Homo sapiens: one gene and its partners. The protein of the gene in region 3 purifies or fractionates together with the protein of the main gene of each other region. This does not show direct contact. Each region holds a gene or a part of one and is shown on either strand. Other genes may lie near its edges.

What was found. Proteins that work in one complex are often made in the same cells at the same time.
Region 1: the proteins of FAM133A (region 3) and NT5C2 purify together in Homo sapiens (affinity purification with mass spectrometry; one large-scale study listed by BioGRID and IntAct). This does not show direct contact.
Region 2: the proteins of FAM133A (region 3) and HSDL2 purify together in Homo sapiens (affinity purification with mass spectrometry; one large-scale study listed by BioGRID and IntAct). This does not show direct contact.
Region 4: the proteins of FAM133A (region 3) and MMAB purify together in Homo sapiens (affinity purification with mass spectrometry; one large-scale study listed by BioGRID and IntAct). This does not show direct contact.

What each region holds. Positions count from the first base shown.
Region 1 is NC_000010.11:103,190,473-103,195,323, forward strand, and holds the start of NT5C2 (cytosolic purine 5'-nucleotidase), read right to left. Parts: upstream 2,801-4,851; 5' UTR 2,764-2,800; exon of another isoform or gene 1,934-2,763; intron 1-1,933. UniProt on the Homo sapiens protein: Broad specificity cytosolic 5'-nucleotidase that catalyzes the dephosphorylation of 6-hydroxypurine nucleoside 5'-monophosphates.
Region 2 is NC_000009.12:112,403,421-112,407,607, forward strand, and holds part of HSDL2 (hydroxysteroid dehydrogenase-like protein 2), read left to right. Parts: intron 1-574; coding exon 575-738; intron 739-2,203; coding exon 2,204-2,302; intron 2,303-4,187. UniProt on the Homo sapiens protein: Has apparently no steroid dehydrogenase activity. Controls bile acid (BA) and lipid metabolism in response to nutritional cues.
Region 3 is NC_000023.11:93,680,039-93,684,912, reverse strand, and holds part of FAM133A (protein FAM133A), read right to left. Parts: intron 1-4,874.
Region 4 is NC_000012.12:109,556,505-109,560,691, forward strand, and holds part of MMAB (corrinoid adenosyltransferase MMAB precursor), read right to left. Parts: intron 2,652-4,187; coding exon 2,592-2,651; intron 633-2,591; coding exon 524-632; 3' UTR 1-523. UniProt on the Homo sapiens protein: Converts cob(I)alamin to adenosylcobalamin (adenosylcob(III)alamin), a coenzyme for methylmalonyl-CoA mutase, therefore participates in the final step of the vitamin B12 conversion.

The DNA.
Region 1 (4,851 bases), on a different chromosome or scaffold from region 3:
AAAAAAACTAACATTTATAGAGAACTTAATGTGTGCCAGTATCACTTCAACTGAATTATTCTATTTAATCCACATAACTCTGTAAAATTTGTTCTATTTTTCCCTTCTCAAGGTGAGAGAAACTGAGTGAGCTTGTCTAAGGTTAACTGAGTTCCCCGAGGTTGCATGATGTTAAGTAGCAAGCCAGACTACAAAATCCGGGCCCTTAAATAAATGCAATGTCTCCTGGCTGAAAGTATGACTGCCTTTACTGCTCACGTCACTCAACATATGCCTTGTGATAGTTAGTATTTTGTGTTAAATGTCTAAAAACCTCAAAACATTACAACACTTATTCAACAAAAATTTACTAAGAGCCTGTGTGCCAGGCATTGTTGACTACCGGGGCACATTAGAGAGCATCTACTAATGAAGATTAGATGAATTCTCTAAATACATGGACATCCCAGAAATATTGGTAAGAGCAAAATCCCAAATAATATGTACACAGCAAGTGTACTAGATAAAAACCAGTCTATGTAAGTACTTTAAAAGAGCACAGTCATAACATGACAAAGTTGTGGGTTTTTGTTTTTGGGGATTTGTTGTTATTTACTATTTCACTGAATTAAGCTTTTGGTAAGAGAATTAAGCAACAGGGTCGGACGCAGTGGCTCAAGCCTGTAATCCCAGTACTTGGGAGGCCGAGGCGGGCAGATCACCTGAGGTCAGGAGTTCGAGACCAGCCTGACCAACTTGGAGAAACCCCGTCTCTACAAAATTAGCCAGGCGTGGTGGCGCATGCCTGTAATCCCAGCTACTCGGGAGGCCGAGGCAGGAGAACTGCTTGAACCCGGGAGGTGGAGGTTGCAATGAGCCAAGATCATGCCATTGCACTCCAGCCTGGCCAACAAGAGCAAAGCTCCGTCTCAAAAAAAAAAAAAAAAGAGAGAGAGAGGAAATACTTAAAAAAAAAAACCTGTGTTTTATGTACTCCTCTTTCCCCATAAAACAGGAGAAATAGCCTAGAGAAAGATTAATGAGCACCTCTGTGCCTAACATTCTATTGTAATCTGGCTTTCTTTAGGAAGATGTGATGTCTTCTGGTTAAGGGTGGCAGGTACTATAAGGGAATACTATCTATATAAATCTTCTTACAATTACAAACTTCTGAAAACTTGTAGCTGATGGTAAATTTTCATACAATGGCATCAAACCTTTGAACTGAAAGGAATCTTGCATAACATCTCCTTCAGAACCCCCCCCACTCCACCCCGCGCCCCTCCACCTTATTTTACAGATTTGTTGGTTACTAAATCCTAAAACCTTAATTCTGGGTCAATGAGAGTAATGCAGCTACCTATACTGTTGAAATGTAGTGGTTTACACTGCAATGGAAATGCACTTCAGAAATAAGTCTGTGTATGCTAGTATCAACCCTGCATGTGGAGTTTTTATTTTAATTACTAACCAGCTATGTTTTCTTGAACTTAACCTTTTTTGTTCTTTTTTTTTTTTCCACTCTCAGCTCACACCTATTTTTTTTCTCTTTTCGAACTTCACCCTTTCAGGCCTGGATGTCTTCATCTGGATAAATTCTAACCGTTGTTGAAAAGCCATGTGGTAAATATTTTTGAAACCTAAAGCCTTCTCTACGCAATAACACTAAGTTTTCATGGTAAATGACACAGTTTCAATATTCTCCCTTTCACATTATGGTCAGTAGTTTGCATTCGTTGCTTGAAGAGGCGAAATGAATAGTCTACAGACACTGGGAACCAAGTACAGCTCAATCCTGAAGAACTCATCGGCCCCTGGACGGGCGCGCACACACCCCCCTGTAATGGTGACTAGTCATTTCGGGGCGCTGTACTTCAGAGCACGACCCCCCTCAAACATCAAGGCCCTAAAGGTGAAAGCCCAGGAAAACGTCGATTCGGACAGCAGCCTCTACCTGCTGCTTTTAGAAGCTGTGGCCTGCCGGAGTCAAACCCCCAAAACGTTTTTCTTAAACTAAGGGTTCAGGCCTCAGATCGGCATCTCGCCCTCTCCGATTTCAGGAGCCCCGAAAAAAGGAGAAGAATAGGCCGCCACTGAACGGCTCAGCCCCCTGACCAGGAGCTGTCCGGATGTTTTTTGTGGCGGCTTGCAATTCGCTGTGACCTTTCCAGGAAGTGTTGCACACGGGCGTGTGGCAAACGAGCTGGCCGTTTCTCGCGGTCCTGCTAAAACGCTGTCAACCTGGCGCTCCACCAGAGGCCCCTTGGCTTCTCGGGAGGCGACCGAGGAGCTCTGGGGGCGGGGAGGCTTTTACAAGAAGCGAAAAGACGGCCTCAGGGGTGGCCGGGAACAGCCTGGAATCAGCTGGAGGACGTCAGCAGGACTGAGGAAAGGGCTACCACCAGCGTGAGGAAAGGGGGGAAGAGGGCGGAACGCGGCGAACGGCCGCGCTGGGAGGCTGAGGCGGGGTCCCAGCGAGCCGGCGGCTGGGAAACAATGGCGCGAGCGTGACGTGGGCCGGAGGCGTCGCGGCGGCGCGGAGGAAGGGGCTGCCGTGGGGCGGGGGCCGCACCGAGGGAGTTGGGAGGCGTGCGGCGTCCGCGAGCGCGCTGGCGGGGACTCGGCCTAAGGAGAGGGGCCTTGGGGCCATGGTCCCTGGGGGCCGGGGGCGGGGGCAGGCGGCGGCCGCTACCCTGGGGTCGCGTGTTCGGCCGCGCACCTCCCCACCTAGCTCCCCGTTCGCCCGCTCCTTCCCCGCCCGCCCACGGGGCCCGCCGCACTCACCGGCTCCAGCGCACCGCAACAATCCCAGCGCGCAACTGCCGCAGCCGCCTCAACGCGCGCCCTCCCCGCCCCCGCCGCCCGGCACCGCCCCGCGCCGCCCCTCTGCTCGCGCCCGGCCAGGGACCGGCGCGCTGTTCCGTCCCCCAGCTCCGCCGCAGAGTTCGGCGAAGCCGACGCTCCCTGACCGCGCTGCGTCTGTCTGTCCCGCGGGTCTGGAGATCTTCAAACGATGGAACACCGGCTTTGCCCTTCTGAGGGTCTCCATCCCTTGGCATTCTGCCTGCGCCCCTCAGCCTGGCCCTGGGCTAACCTCTCCACTGTGTCTCATTCAGAAGAAGCTTTTCCTTGGGAGGAGAGGGCATCCTTTTTCCCAGTCACAGAATGTTTTGGTCTAATGGACCTCAAGGCCCCTCATGCGTCCACACCCCCATGGCACCCTCGAATCCCCTTGATGGCTAAAAACACCAGCTTTGAAGTTTGTCAGAACGAGTTCCAGTCCCAGTACCACCACTTACAAACTGTAACCTCGGGCGAGGTACCTGACCTCCTATACCTGGTGCCCACATTTGTAGCACCAGGATAGGGAACAACAGTCCCCACATCAAAGGGTGTTGACGGGATGAAATCACACAATATAGGTGAGGCCCTCAGCAGGATCCTGGCACACAGTAAGCACTCAATAAATGTTCACCCCACCACCAGCAACTCAGCAGGAAGACTCCGCAAAAGCAGCTAGCTATTTCCAGAGGACTGAATTCCTTGGTCCGAGCAGCTCTCACCAGTGAGAAAATGTGTCTAAACTTCCACTCTCAGGGCCGAAATTCGATGCCTTGGAGCCACAGAGAACAAACGTCTAATCTCTCCTGGACCTTTGACTTTTCAGATACTTTACTTCTATCACCTCTGCCCAAGGTCTTCTCATTCCACATCAGTGTCTCCCGTTCCTTCCATTGTTCCTCCTCTGCCCTGGTTTTGAGGGTCTTTATCCCTCTCACGCAAATGGTAGATTTGACTGTGATTTCTTTAGAATACATCACCCAAGACTGAACCAAATGTTTGTGGTATCATCAGAGCAAAGCAGGACTATAGCTTCCTCCTTTTGGGACCTATCGCTTTGCACTCCTGCGATAAAGTTCTTGGCACCCATACTGTTGACTCATATTGGGCTTGCAGTCAACCAAAACCTCCGCGTCTTTTTAATAAGTGCTCCGCCAGAGCACTTCTACCCCTTCTTGTGCTTCTCAGCCAACTTCGCTTCAGGTCAGCTAAGGATAGACCTTGGGCCCCTCACCTTCTAAATTTCTCAGGATATATGGAAAAGAGGAATAGGGGTTGGAAGCTGGCATAACACAATCTTTAAACCAAGTGCATTTGAAAAAAGGCCAGGGTGGCGGGGCGTGGTAGCTCACACCTGTAATCCCATCACTTTGGGAAGCCAAGGCAGGTGGATCATTTGAGGTCAGGAGTTCAAGACCAGCCTGACCAACATGGCGAAACCCCATCTCTACTAAAAATACAAAAATTAGCTGGGCATGGTGGCACGCACCTGTAGTCCCAGCTACTCGGGAGGCTGAGGCAGGAGAATCGCTTGAACCCGGAAGGCGGAGGTTGCAGTGAGCCAAGATCACGCCACTGAACTCCAGCCTGGGCGACAGAGGGAGACTCCATCTCCAAAAAAAAAAAAAAAGAAGAAACGAAAAAAGGCCAGGGTTTGTGTCTAAACACTATGGTACTGAGAGAAAAACAAATATAGAGACACACACAAATGAATGTGATCACAACTGTGAAAAAAAACTGCACACGCAAAAGACTACAGGGAAATATGTAATTGATTATGTTGTTTTCTCTCAGTGATAAGATGGGGTGGTTTCTTCTTTGTACTTTTGTATTAATTTCTTACGGTGTTTGTATTACTTTTATAATCAAGAACTTTGTTTTAAAAAATAAATCAGAAAAAAGAATTTAAAAAATCAGAGAGATGGAATAACTTGAAAAAAACTGAAAACAAAGTTAAAAGATAACAGAATAAGGGGAAAACTATTCGCAATACACAAAAGACAAAGGATTTGTCTATAAAGGACTCTTAAC
Region 2 (4,187 bases), on a different chromosome or scaffold from region 3:
GCGGAACATTATTTCATTGTATGCGTGGCTACACCACATTCTGCTTATCCGTTCATCAGCTGATGGACGTTTGAGTTGTTTCCACCTTGGCTATTATGAGCATTCATTGAACAATTATTTGCTTTTAGGTAATTTATTTTAAGTGGTATGTAGTCATTGTGGAAACTTTGAAAAATATTAAAGAATATAAAGGATGTGATAAAATTTGCTCATAATCCCACCACTCAAAAAAAAAAAGCTTTATTAACACGTTTTCTGTGGGGAAAAAAATGCATGTTTATATAATTTGTTTTATAATTCTTTATTTCTCTTGAAGATTTGCTTTGCATTTGAACAGATTTTGTTTGCTAAATCACAGCAAGACTGGCCAACTGCAGTTGTCATAAATAATTTATCAGTCATTGTGCAATGGGAGTATAGTGGAGTTATCTGCCATCAGATGGGCATGGGGAGGGTTTAGAGAAAATTTCACAGAGGAGGAAACATATATTATGAAAATATGCATGAGGTTCTGATACCTGTCAGTAAATAAAACATTGGGTCTTCTAATAAGGTCGTATTTGTTCTGTTGTAGGAGGCTGGCAGGATGTACAGTTTTTATCACAGGTGCAAGCCGTGGCATTGGCAAAGCTATTGCATTGAAAGCAGCAAAGGATGGAGCAAATATTGTTATTGCTGCAAAGACCGCCCAGCCACATCCAAAACTTCTAGGCACAATCTATACTGCTGCTGAAGAAAGTGAGTGTGACAGTGCCATTTGATAAAATGTCTTTCTAGTGGTTTCAATACATAGAGAATTTGCTGGAGAGTTTAGTTAAAGCTATTTGAAAGCTACCCTGAACATAATTTTATCTAGTGAAAGAAGTATTTATGTTGTCACCTTGGGGCAGTGCTTCTGACCGTTTTTCTCCACCAGCACTTTTAAGCAATGTGAGAAACTCCAGTTAAAAATCTTATTTCATGGCGGGGCGTGGTGACTCACACCTGTAATTTCACCCAGCTACTCGGGAGGCTGAGGCAGGAGAATCACTTGAACCTGGGAGGTGGAGGTTGCAGTGAGCCAAGATCATGCCACAGCACTCCAGCTTGGGTGACAGAGCGAGACTCCATCTCTTAAAAAAAAAAAAATCTTGGTTCTTGAGGGCAGTGGTTCTTGGATGGGAGGGGGAGTAGGGAAGTGGAGTAGAGAGGAGAGAATTTGATTGGTGAGTGGCATGAACTCTTTGAGAAAGCGTTCTGTGTTATTTATTCTCTGTACAATTTGCAAGTCATCATTTTAATACTTTTAGTTGACAAATAATTATCACATACTTCTATTTAAGGCATAGCGCTAGGCACAGAGCCAGGAGAGAGGGCTTAAAAATTCAAGTTCAGTTGACATTGCTAGTTTTGTTAATCATGTTCAGAGCACTGTGGTTATGTTAGAGGAATGCATGTGAAGTGTTTATGAGTGAAATGATGTCAGGGATTTGCTTTAAAACACACCAGCAAAAAATAAAACAGGGGACAGGAAAGATAAACATATTAACTGACAAAACTAACAATCGTTGAAGATAGGTGATGGATTCCTGTTAGTTTATTACAGCATCTTTACATTTTTATATAGTTTAGAATATTTCCACAATAAAAAGTTTTTAAAAATTACTTTCAACTGGGTGAGGTGGCTCAAGCCTGTAATCCCAGCACTTTGGGAGGCCAAGGCGGGTGGATCACTTGAGGTCAGGAGTGCGAGACCAGCCTGACCAACATGGCAAAACCGTGTCTCTACAAAAAATAGAAAAATTAGCCTGGCGTGGTGGTGCATGCCTATAGTCCCAGCTACTTGGGAAGCTGAGGTGGGAGGATCCTTTGAGCCTGGGAGATTGAGGCTGCAGTGAGCTGTGTTTGTGCCACTTCACCCAAGCCTGGGCAAGAGAGTGAGACCCTGTCTGAAAAACAAAAACAAACAAACAAAAAACTTCCTTTTTTTAGCTTTTTAAAAAAATTACAAAGAAACCCCCACCAAACCTTCGTTTTTGTTTTTTAATAGTGTTAGCCTAGCTAGTCTGTCCTGCTATATGGTAGAGTCACTGGTGGTAAGATAGAGTTATTTATATTGATTTTCTGAAAACAGGGTACTTTTTTCTTTTGACTGTGATATTGGAATTAAAGGTATAATATTTAAATGCTTTAACGCTTTTTCATTTTGTATCCTTTATATAAGTTGAAGCAGTTGGAGGAAAGGCCTTGCCATGTATTGTTGATGTGAGAGATGAACAGCAGATCAGTGCTGCAGTGGAGAAAGCCATCAAGAAATTTGGAGGTAATACCTTCATTCTGAAAAAATTATTGGATATTGGTAAAATAAAGGTATAACTATAATGTTAATTTAAAAATTTGTTTTGAGTTTTGAATTTTCTGAGTCTTTGGAGAAATACGTATTTGCTCACACAGAACATGATTTAAAACCATCTGATAAGGCTGGGCGTGGTGGCTCACACCTGTAATCCCAGCACTTTGGGAGGCCGAGGCAGGCAGATCACTTGAGGTCAGGAGTTTAAGACCAGCCTGGCCAACATGGTGAAACCCCGTCTCTACTAAAAATACAAAAATTAGCTGAACATGGTGGTGGATGCCTGTAATCCCAGCTACTCAGGAGGCTGAGGTGGAAGAATTGCTTGAACCTGGGAGGTGGAGGTTGCAGTGAGCTGAGATTGCACCACTGCATTCCAGCCTGGGTGACAGAGCAAGACTCTGTCTCAAAAAGAAAAAAAAAAAAAAGAAAAAGAGTGTGGAATGATAGACTGTGGAGACTGGGAAGAAAGAAGGGATGCAAGGGGGGTAGATGAAGAGAAATTACTTAATCGGTACAATGTTTGCTGTTTGGGTGATGGATACCCTAAAAGTCCTGGACACTGCACAATCTATGTATGTGAGAAAATTGCACTTGTGCCTTATATATTTGTTTTTGAAAAAATTCTTCCTTTATGTGGTTAAATTTCATCTTCTTCACAAAGTCAGTTCCCTCACCATGCCAACTAATCAGAATTATATTTTTCTTTCTCTGATTTCTTTTTTCTTTTTTTTTGAGACTGAGTCTTGCTCTTGTCACCCAGGCTGGAGTGCAGTGGCGCAATCTCGGCTCACTGCAACCTCTGCCTCCTGGGTTCAAGCGATTCTCCTGCCTCAGCCTCCCGAGTAGCTGGGATTACAGGCGCCTGCCACCATGCCCAGCTAATTTTTGTATATTTAGTAGAGACAGGTTTCGCCACATTGGCCAGGCTGGTCTCGAACTCCTGACTTCATGATCCACCCAACTCAGCCTCCCAAAGTGCTGGGATTACAGGCGTGAGCCACCGTGCCCGGCCTCTCTGATTTCTTAAAACATTCATTTGATCCTTATCTTGTACTATTTTAGATCTTAGTATTTCTTTTCTCCCCAATTAGTTCAAAAGTTCCTAGAAAAAAGGTGTTGGGGATTGAGCTAAGGCTTTCATGGTATTATAGTAGGGCACCTAGGCATGTCCAAATCCTGCCTAAACCATTACCACTCTCCCCGCTAATGTTCTGGAGGACCATATGTACATGTGAGGGACAATGGCCAGTGGAAAATGAGGGAATGCTTCAGTGTTAGCAAGGCTGTACTTATAATCCCAATGCAGAGTGCTGTGGGGTGCTGGACTGAAGCACGGAGCTTTGGCTCAAGTGGAGCCTCTTCCCTTAAATCCAAAATCTTACCCCTAGCCGGCAGCCTTTCCCAAAGAAATGTGAATGCCTGTGTCAGAAGAGGAGAGAAAATGCAAAATGATGTTTGTCCAACTGATAGGGCGCTAAATGTGAAATGTGCCACGCTCAAATGCAGGATATTTTATCTAAAATGACTTCACCTAGTAGTAAAAGTGGTTAACTAGTGCCACTTAGGATTTGATGTAATTAGTTTATCCACTAATTTTTGGAGAGGACGTAAGGGGAGAAAGCTGAAGCTTTTCATTCTCCCATATTCATTCAGTTTTAGTTCTTTTTTTTTTCTTCTTTGAAACAGGGTCTCACTCTGTCACCCAGACTGGTATGTAGTGGCATGATCGTGGCTCACCACAGCTTTGGCCTCCTGGGCTCAGGTGATCCTCCAACCCCAGCCTCCCAAGAAGCTGGGACTATAGGTGCCCACCACCAGGCCTAGCTAATTTTTGTGTTTTTAGTAGAGATGG
Region 3 (4,874 bases):
GCTATTCAAGTGAAAGATAGTTCCTCTTTTGCAAAAGTAGTAATTGAAACACTATTTCAGCTTTCTGTATAAACTTTGACCAAATAATGACCCAATTTAAACAAACAATGTTATTCATTATTGTGTTAAATGTTTGTTTTTTTAATTATAAAAATAATATATGCTTGTTTTAAAAATTCAAAACGTGATTCAGAATAGAAAATACAAAGTTAAAGCTTTTCCTTCAATCTGATTTCACTGGTTCGGTGTATATATTGTCAGACATTTTTCTATGTGAATGAAAACAAACACACATGCACAGAACATATATGCATCTATACTTTTTTATATAGATGGGAGCAAATAATAGATATTGTCTCACAACTTGCTTTTTTCATTTGAAACTCTATTATGGACATCTTTTTTACATATTGAGAACCAGCTCTTTTGTTCTAAGTTACCAAGGCAGATATGCCCTTAAGCTCTGGTTTCTGGCATTTTCCCAACCATCTAAATGTTTCAATAACTGATTTTTGTATTAAAAAAATTGACTTCTGGCATAAAAAGAGGCACGTAGTTCAATAGAACAGAACAGAAAATCAAAACATTAATCCACATATCTACAGCCAACTGATTTTTGACAAAGGCTCCAAGAACACTCATTGGGAAAGGGCAGACTCTTCAATAAATAGTGCTGGGAAAATTGGATAACCATAGGCAGAAAACTGAAACTAGACTCCCCCACCTCTCTGCCTATACAACAATACACTCAAAATGGATCAGACTTACATGTAAGACACAAGACTATAAATCTATTAGAAGAAAACATAGAGTAAATGCTTCAGGACACTGGTTTGGGAAAAGGCTTTATGAATAAGACCTCAAAAACACAGGCAACAAAAGCAAAAGTAAACAAATGGGACTATATCAAACTAAACAGCTTATGCACAGCAAAGGAAACAATCAACAATGTGAAAAGTCTACCTAGAGAATGGGAGAAAATATTTGCAAAGTATTCATACAACAGGGAATTAATATCCAGAATATACAAAGAACTCAAAACAGCCAAAAAAAAACCCATTTCAAAAATTGGCAAATTAGCTGAATAGACATTTCAAAAGAAGACATGCAAACGGCCAACAAATATATGAAAACATATTCAACATCATTAATCATCAGGGATATGCAAATCAAAACCACGAAGAGATATCATTTCACCCCAGTTAGGATGGCTATTATAAAAAAGATAAAAATTAACAAATGCAGGTGATGATGCATAGAAAAGGGAACTCTTATACACTTTAAGTAGTGAACTAGTACAGCCACTATGGAGAACAGTATGGAGGTTCCTCAAAAAACAAGCATGCATAATTTTTATGATTATAATAGAAATATGATTTGACTTTCCAAAGAAAAGTATTTTTCAAACAATAAAGAAATTGGAGGGAAGTTGTTTTCCATAATTTATGAGACAGGAAAAGGCAATGTGGCAAGTTTGATTATGCTTAATTCAAGCAACAGATTCTGATAAGAATAAAAGTAACTGGGTTATTAGGGTAGCCATTTTATGAGATAGAGTACTGTTTATTAAAATAAGCTCTGGTACTCTGATCTATATTTTCCTTTAAATGCTCATTATATGTAAAGCAATTTTGCAATACTTATCTAAAATACTGTCCTTTAGAAAGAAAATACTAATGAAATGAAAGGGTTAAATAAACAGACATTTTAATTTAATATTAAATGTGGATCATCATTAGATTTCAAAATTTTTCTTCTGAAGACTCTGTGTGTCCTCCTAACTATTAATAGTTTGTGAGGTGTTACTATTTAGAAGTTGGTTGGTAAAACACCAATTCTTTAAAACCTGAAAATTTAGTAAACTAATGTAATTTGTTGCATGACAATTACACATTAGTAAATCAGGCACAATTAAGAGACAACTGTTAAATAAAATTAGAGTGCAATTAAAGGCTAAAAATGAATTTTATTTGAACAGCAAGTAAAAATGGTACTGCTGGCTGAACGCGGTGGCTCACTCCTGTAATCCCAGCACTTTGGGAGGCCGAGGCAGGTGGATCACTTGAAGTCAGGAGTTCGAGGCCAACTGACCAACATGGTTAAACCCCGTCTCTATCAAAAATACAAAAATTAGCTGGGCATGGTGGTGAACGCCTGTAATCCCAGCTATTTGGGAGGCTGAGGCAGGAGAATGGCTTGAACCCGGGAGATGGAGGTTGCAGTGAGCCGAGATCACACCATTGCACTCCAGCATGGGCAACAAGAGCAAAACTTTGTCTCAAAAAAAGAAAAAATGGTACTGCTGTAAGGAAGCCAGTTCATTTGTTTAAGAAGTTAATTAGTACAGTACTAAATGTATTCTTGTGCAGAGCAATACTCTGAGCAAGGACAGAGGATTATAAATAAGAAAATATCTTGGTCCTTTTCCTAGGTAAATTTAAAATATACATAGGAAAAGAACATGTGTGTGTACACACAATAAATGACCTATGTGGTTCTGTTATAATGTTTATCATAAAGCTCACAAAAATGTAATACACTCCAAGCAAATAAGCTCTGAAGGAAAGAAAGAGTTAAAGAACTATGTTCCACTGGGTAACTATTCCTGGAGAAGATAAGTTTAGTAAAAACTGTTTGGACATGCACTATGTTATCAGAATTTTACATGTATTATGTCATTTCAAGCTCACCATTGCTCTGTGAGATGGGTACTATTATTATCCCCATTCTACAGATGAGGAAATTGAGGCATAGAGAGTTAAGAAATGTGCCCAAGGTCACTGGAGGGTAAAGGACACAGCTTGTACTTATACACTGGTTTGATTCAAGACAGTGAAGTATCACTAAAAATTTGGGATTAGGGCAAGGATATAAGTGTTTTCAGAAAGACCTTTCAAAGAACTATGTATAGCATATCTGAGAGGCTAAGGGGCAGTTTGGGGGCTGCTACAAGCAGATTGGTCAGATAGTCTAATCATTTATGTAATTCTCTTGTCATGTCATATTTAATCTTTCTTACAAAGAAGGCTAAACACATTCTCATGATGTAGATAATGAAACAGTTTTAATTAAGGTATCCAGTTACCTCTAAACAAACAAAAAAATGCTTATTCTTTTAGATAGACAAATGCTGCTTATAAGAGAAGACAGACAAAAGTGGTCAATATTATAATTTTAAAATTTTGTTTACACCTGTTTTAAGACAGTTGCTAAATCAAAGTAATGAATCTAGAGAATGTAGGCCTCTATTTCTTCTTTCTCTGACAAGCAGATTTTTTAACCAAAAGCAACAATTAGTTCATTGACATCTTGTTTGTTTACTCACTTCTTAGAGAATTGTGAAGTGTTAGCTATCATCACCTTGAAAGTATCAATACTAGATTTGCTGAAGCATTAGTCTATACTACTTACTAAACATATACTTTCATAGAAACATCTGCCAGAATGGAGAACAACTACTTTTTTTCTGAGAGGAGGTACCTAATGAAATTAATTAAATATATTTGGATAGTCTGGAAAAAAATCAGCAGAAAATGTCACTTTGGGCTTCCTCCATTTTGTCCAAATAAATTGCAAAATGGGGAAATAGCCATTGCAAAGATAGATAGATAGATAGATAGATAGACAGAATATATCTAAGATATCATATAAGATATATACATATATATCATATGCACATAAGATATATCTATATATATTGTAAACATTGTCCATTTTTCAAAGTCTTTGGATTTTTTCTTCCTTTATAGTAAAATTAAATAAAATACTTTCAAACTTGCAATAAAAAGGCTTGCTTTATTTGAATTGTAGGATGGAAATTCTTCAGATGAGTACTACAGGCAAAAAATTCCTGATTACCCTTGTAAAAGTATTCTTCCGTGATGTGGTTTTACATTTTTGAAAAATGTACGCTGTTTGTACATTCAAAACTAGCATTAGCAACAAAAGCAAAAATAGACAAAAGGCATCACATCAAACTAAAAAGTTTTTGCACAATAAAGGAAGTAAATGAGTAAAGAGGCAACGTATGGAATGGCAGAATATATTTGCAAACCAAACATATGATAAGGAGTTAAATATTCAAAATATATAAGGAACTCAAACAACTCAGTAATTTTAAAAAACATAATTTTTTAAAATGAGTAAAAGATCTGAAGAGATGTTTTTCAAAAGGCATACAAATCGCCAATAGGTATATGAAAAAATACTTGACATCACTAATCATCAGGTAAATGCAAATTAAAAACATAATGAGATATCATCTCATGCCTGTTAGGACAGCTATTATCAAAAAGACGAAAGGTAAGTGTTGGTGAGGATATGGAGAAAAGTTAACCCTTGTAAACTGTTGCTGGTAATGTGGATTAGTATAGCCATTATGGAAAACAGTATGGACATTCCTCAAAACTACTGTAAGAATGGAACTACCATATGATCTAGTAATCCCAGTACTGAGGATATATCCAAAGGATATGAAATGAATACATTGAAGAGATATCTGTACTCCCATTTTCATTGCAGCATTAGGTACAATAGCCAAGATATGGAATAAACCTAAGTGTCCATCAGTTGATGAATGGATAAAGAAAATATGGTATGTATACACAGTAAAGTATTGATCAGACTTTAAAAAGGGAAATCTTGTCATTTGTGGAAACATAGACAAATCTGGAGAACAATATGCTAAGTGAAATAAGCCAGGAACAGACAAATACCATGTGATCTCACATGTGGAGCATAAAAATGTCACATTCATAGAAACAAAGAGTAAAATGGGTGGTTACTAGACAATTGGGAGTTGGGGGTTTGAGGAGATACTGTCAAAAGAAACAACACGGCCTGGTGCAGTGGCTCATGCCTGTAATCCCAGCAAT
Region 4 (4,187 bases), on a different chromosome or scaffold from region 3:
TCCAAATCTTGTCCGCCTTCCCCTTTACAAATGTGACATTTAAAGCACCTTTGGCACAGGTAAATCACAATTACATTTTCAAGGGCCTCTGGTCCCATTCCAAATCTGTGAACAACCTGAGCTGGCAGTGGGAGGGCTCTCTCTCACACACACACACACACACACACACACACACACACACACACACACGGCTCCAGCCTTTCCAACTTTTATTCCTTTTCCGCACAGCTCCTTCTCATTGCAGCAATCACTTTACCTGTCTTTCCTGCAATGCCAATTCATTCCCACATCCCTCCAAGACCCAGGAGAGCTTGGGGAAGCAGGGTCAGGGACAGAATCCCCAAAGGGTCACAGTCCCTTGAGGAAGGTGGCAAGAGGTGTAGATCAAAGCTGAGCTGGGACAAAAGGCTGCTTTGAGCCTCTCTGGGTGAGCTCTTCAGGAACCAGGACCCCAGAAGGGCAAGCTCCTCTCTCCACGGCCATCGCCATGGAGGGATCCTCCAAGCTCCCACTTTCTGTGATTTCAGAGTCCCTCAGACTCGGCCGATGGGTCATTTTTCATGTATATTTTCTCTTGATTCCCCTCCTTCATGGCTGCATATCTGGCTAGCGTGAAGAGATAGTCACTGAGTCTGGAGGGGCAGAGAGAGAGAAGCAAACAGAATGGTTTGAAATGAGAGATCAACGCTAACTGGGTCTTCCCATATCCGCCTACAAGGAGGAGATATAAATGACGCACTCTGGGCACATTGTGCAGGGAGGGCGGGGGCCCAGCCATCTTGCACTTAATGGATGGCACACGAGGCCAGCTGCTGTGAATGCCAAGGACTCTACTCCAGTGTCAAGGCTGGGGCCATTCCTGCAGGATGAGGCCATTGCCCCGGCCCTACCCCATGGGGCAGATGACTTTGGACTCCTCTCTGAGCCGGTTTTTGCACCTTTGAGTGATCAGGGCTCAGGTGCGTGATCAGTTTGGGTGTTTCCCAAACTACAGTGTGCACAGGCATCACCAGGGGATCTCAGCGACGTGCAGATTCTGACTCAGGAGGGCTGGGCTGGGCTGGGCCCGGGGCTCTGCAGGTCTAGTTCCTGCCCTGGCTGATGCTGACACTGCTGGACTAGGCCCTACTGACATTCTGGATCATTCTGTGTGTTCGGGGCTGTCCTGTGCATCCTGTGCAGTGTAGGATGCTGACAGCACCTTTGGTCTCCACCCACCAGGTGCCAGTGGCACCCCTGCACCCAGTGTGACAACTAGTAATGCCTCCAAACATCGCCAAAGGTACCGGGTGAGAAGCACAGGCTGGAGCACTCTAGAGACCAGAGCCCAGCCCCTTTCCCGCCTCCTCCTTTGAACCAACAGCAATGGTCATCTGTGCATGAGGCCTTCTGCAGGGGCAGCAGTGGAGGGAACTAGAGGACGACGCCACGGGCCCCAGAAGGCGCTTACGCTGTCAGCTCTTCTGCCTTCTGCTGTCCGCACCTTTTGCTGTTTCACTCCCAGCACGAGGCACCACGTTCCTCCCTCTCTCTCTGCCCCAGTCTTGCCCTCAGAGGCCAGCTCCACACCACATCCTCCTGAGTCCTCCCCTGACTCAGGCCCCCTGGGCCCCACGGCTGGCTCTCAGGAAGAGCGAAGGGGAGGTTGTTCAGGGTATTTTACCCCTGGGCCGCATGCTCCTGGAGGGCAGTGGTGTGCCTGTTGCTTGTTGGCTCTGTGAAGCCTCACTGAGGAGATGAAATGGCCTGTCCCGTGCAATGCTATGGGACCGCAGGGTTGCTGCTTTGAAGGTGAAGTAGACCTGCTCCTCACTCCCGGCGAAACCCCCCTCCCAGAAGGAAAGGAGCTGCTCAGGACCCGTCAAAGCGCCATGTCTCTGGGAGGAGTGGCCACAGTCAAGGGCCTGAGGTCACTTTCTAGACACCCAGGACAGCTCCTGGGGTGCAGACCTGCTCCCCCAGCTCTCTACCTGCCCCCAGGCTCTGGCCTTGCCCACACTGATGCCACAGAAGCCAGGGCTGGGGCAGGAACCCGCAGAGCAGGCTTTGGGCCAGGTGTGGCTCCAGCCTCATGGGCCGGCCGCGAGGCAGAGGAAGCCCTCCCTGGGCTAGCCTGGCTCACTGGGGCCTGCATGGGGTCCCCTGAGCGCAGCTTGGCCCGGCTCTCTTGTTGGTTCATGCTGCCGCAGGCCCTCTCGGGGACAGGAAACTGGCTGAGAGAGGGCCTGAAGCCTGGCTCCCTGGTCAGTCACCACCGAGAGGCCTCCCCTGAGCACCCAGCCTCTAAGAACGCCCTTTGCCCCCGCAATGCCACTTTGCACTTAGGTTTTTCTTCCTGGTTTTTACAGCAGCCTCTCCCAATAAGATCTAAATCTTATCGGGACAGGCACAGGGCCCACCTTGTTCACCACTGCCTCCCCTGTGCCCGGCGTGGTGCCTGGCACAGAGCAGATGTTCATAAACACTAAGGGAATGAAGGAGGGGGTGCGGGAATGCTGCCCCACACTGCTTCCCGGACCGCTGCACCGCTGCTACTTCCCACAGATGAGCCTCGGCTTTCAGAGAGGAACCCCCAGGTTCCACGCGAGTACCTGTTTAAGAACTTGGCCACGTTCGCATCGGTCTCTCCCATCTGGACAAGAGGCACCACACTAGAAAGGGAGGAGACACTGAGTCACGTGACATTATGGGGCTCAACAGGCTCTGACCTGGGCCTAAACCTTGAGCAGCATTTCACATCCTGCCACCGCTCAACCTGAACCTGCACAGGCTCGGCCGGCAGTGGAGATGACAAATCCATCACAGGTGGGTTTAAACAGGCCATCGGCCCCCTTTCCACCAGCACATCGCAGGACGGCCTGGCCAAGGAGGGATCAAGGATGGCTGGTGAGTTGAGGGAGCCACCTGGCCTACACCACACCCCAGCCAGCCAGCTTTTGTACCACTGGACCTGGGTCTGGGTGGGGTGAAGTTGGGGTGGTCTGCCTCTAGCCTTCAAAGGAAGTGGGGGCCTGACCCTTAATTCCCAATGGGCTAAACTCTAAGCCCCTTGTACATCATGACTTAGAACAACTTCACAGGGGAGAAAAAGACCCAGGCAGACCAAGCTCCTGATTCCGCAGGATTCTGGATTCCTGGGGTCCATGCCAGTCTATTTGCAGATACATTAGACACTGGACGGCCATCTGCTGGGCACCAGTGTGGTGGCGGGCCCTTGCCGAGCCTTTCCCAGGTATCACCCTGTGGCATACCCCTTGTTGGCAAGCCAGCTACCCAAAGCCCAGCCTCAGGGTTCTCATCCCCACCCAAAGCCATGCACCCGGCTAGCGGCCCAGGAGGGTGTGCACCCAGGCCTGTCACAGAGCTCCAGGCTGTCTCTAGTGGGCACCGCATGCTCAGCGAGGAGCTTCCTCACCCGAGGTGCCCCAGGTGTGTGTCCCCACCTCAGGACAATCTGCACCTTGCCACTGCCATGGCTGCGTAACTCTCTGCTGCATGGAGGACCTATCAGCTGCTCCGCCATGCCTGTTTTCGGGGCCTTTGGGTTGTTTCCAGTTTCTTGCTATTATGAGCACTGCTGATGGATGGCTTTGTACAAATGACAGTTTTTTCTTTTGAAGCCAAAGCTTGTTCTGTTACCTGGGATCTCTAAGGAGCTATCTGGGCCCGAGAGCCTTTCATAAAGAACAAAACCTTAGTGGTGTGGGACCGTGGAAGAGCTCAGGCTTGGCCCAGACAGACGTGGACTCCAATCTGGATTCTGCTATCAACCATGTGGGGGACCGTGACCATGGTGTCATTTCTCTGAGCCACAGCTTCCTGACTCCTGTAAAACAGAGGCCACCACCACCTCTCTCCCAGGGCTATCAACAAGGAGTAAATGAAATTATGAACATAAAGTGCCAGTCCATTGGATCAAAGTAGGGCTTGCTTTCTCTTCTCTGTAAAGCTGGCTGGCAGCCTGGTCTCTGAGTGGTGTAGATAGAGACTTTGCTCATTTTCTTCTAAAGATTCCTTGAAAAGGCTGTCAGTAGCTTTGGAGGAGGTGGTGGCTAGTCTGCTGACAACGTCCACCTGGGCTCCCCACAGCCATGCAGGCCTTTCAGGAGCCTTATGCACCCAGCAGCCAGCAGGGTCCTTTCATGTCTACCCCTGTCCCCAAGATGGCTGAGGCTGAGAACCCAGCA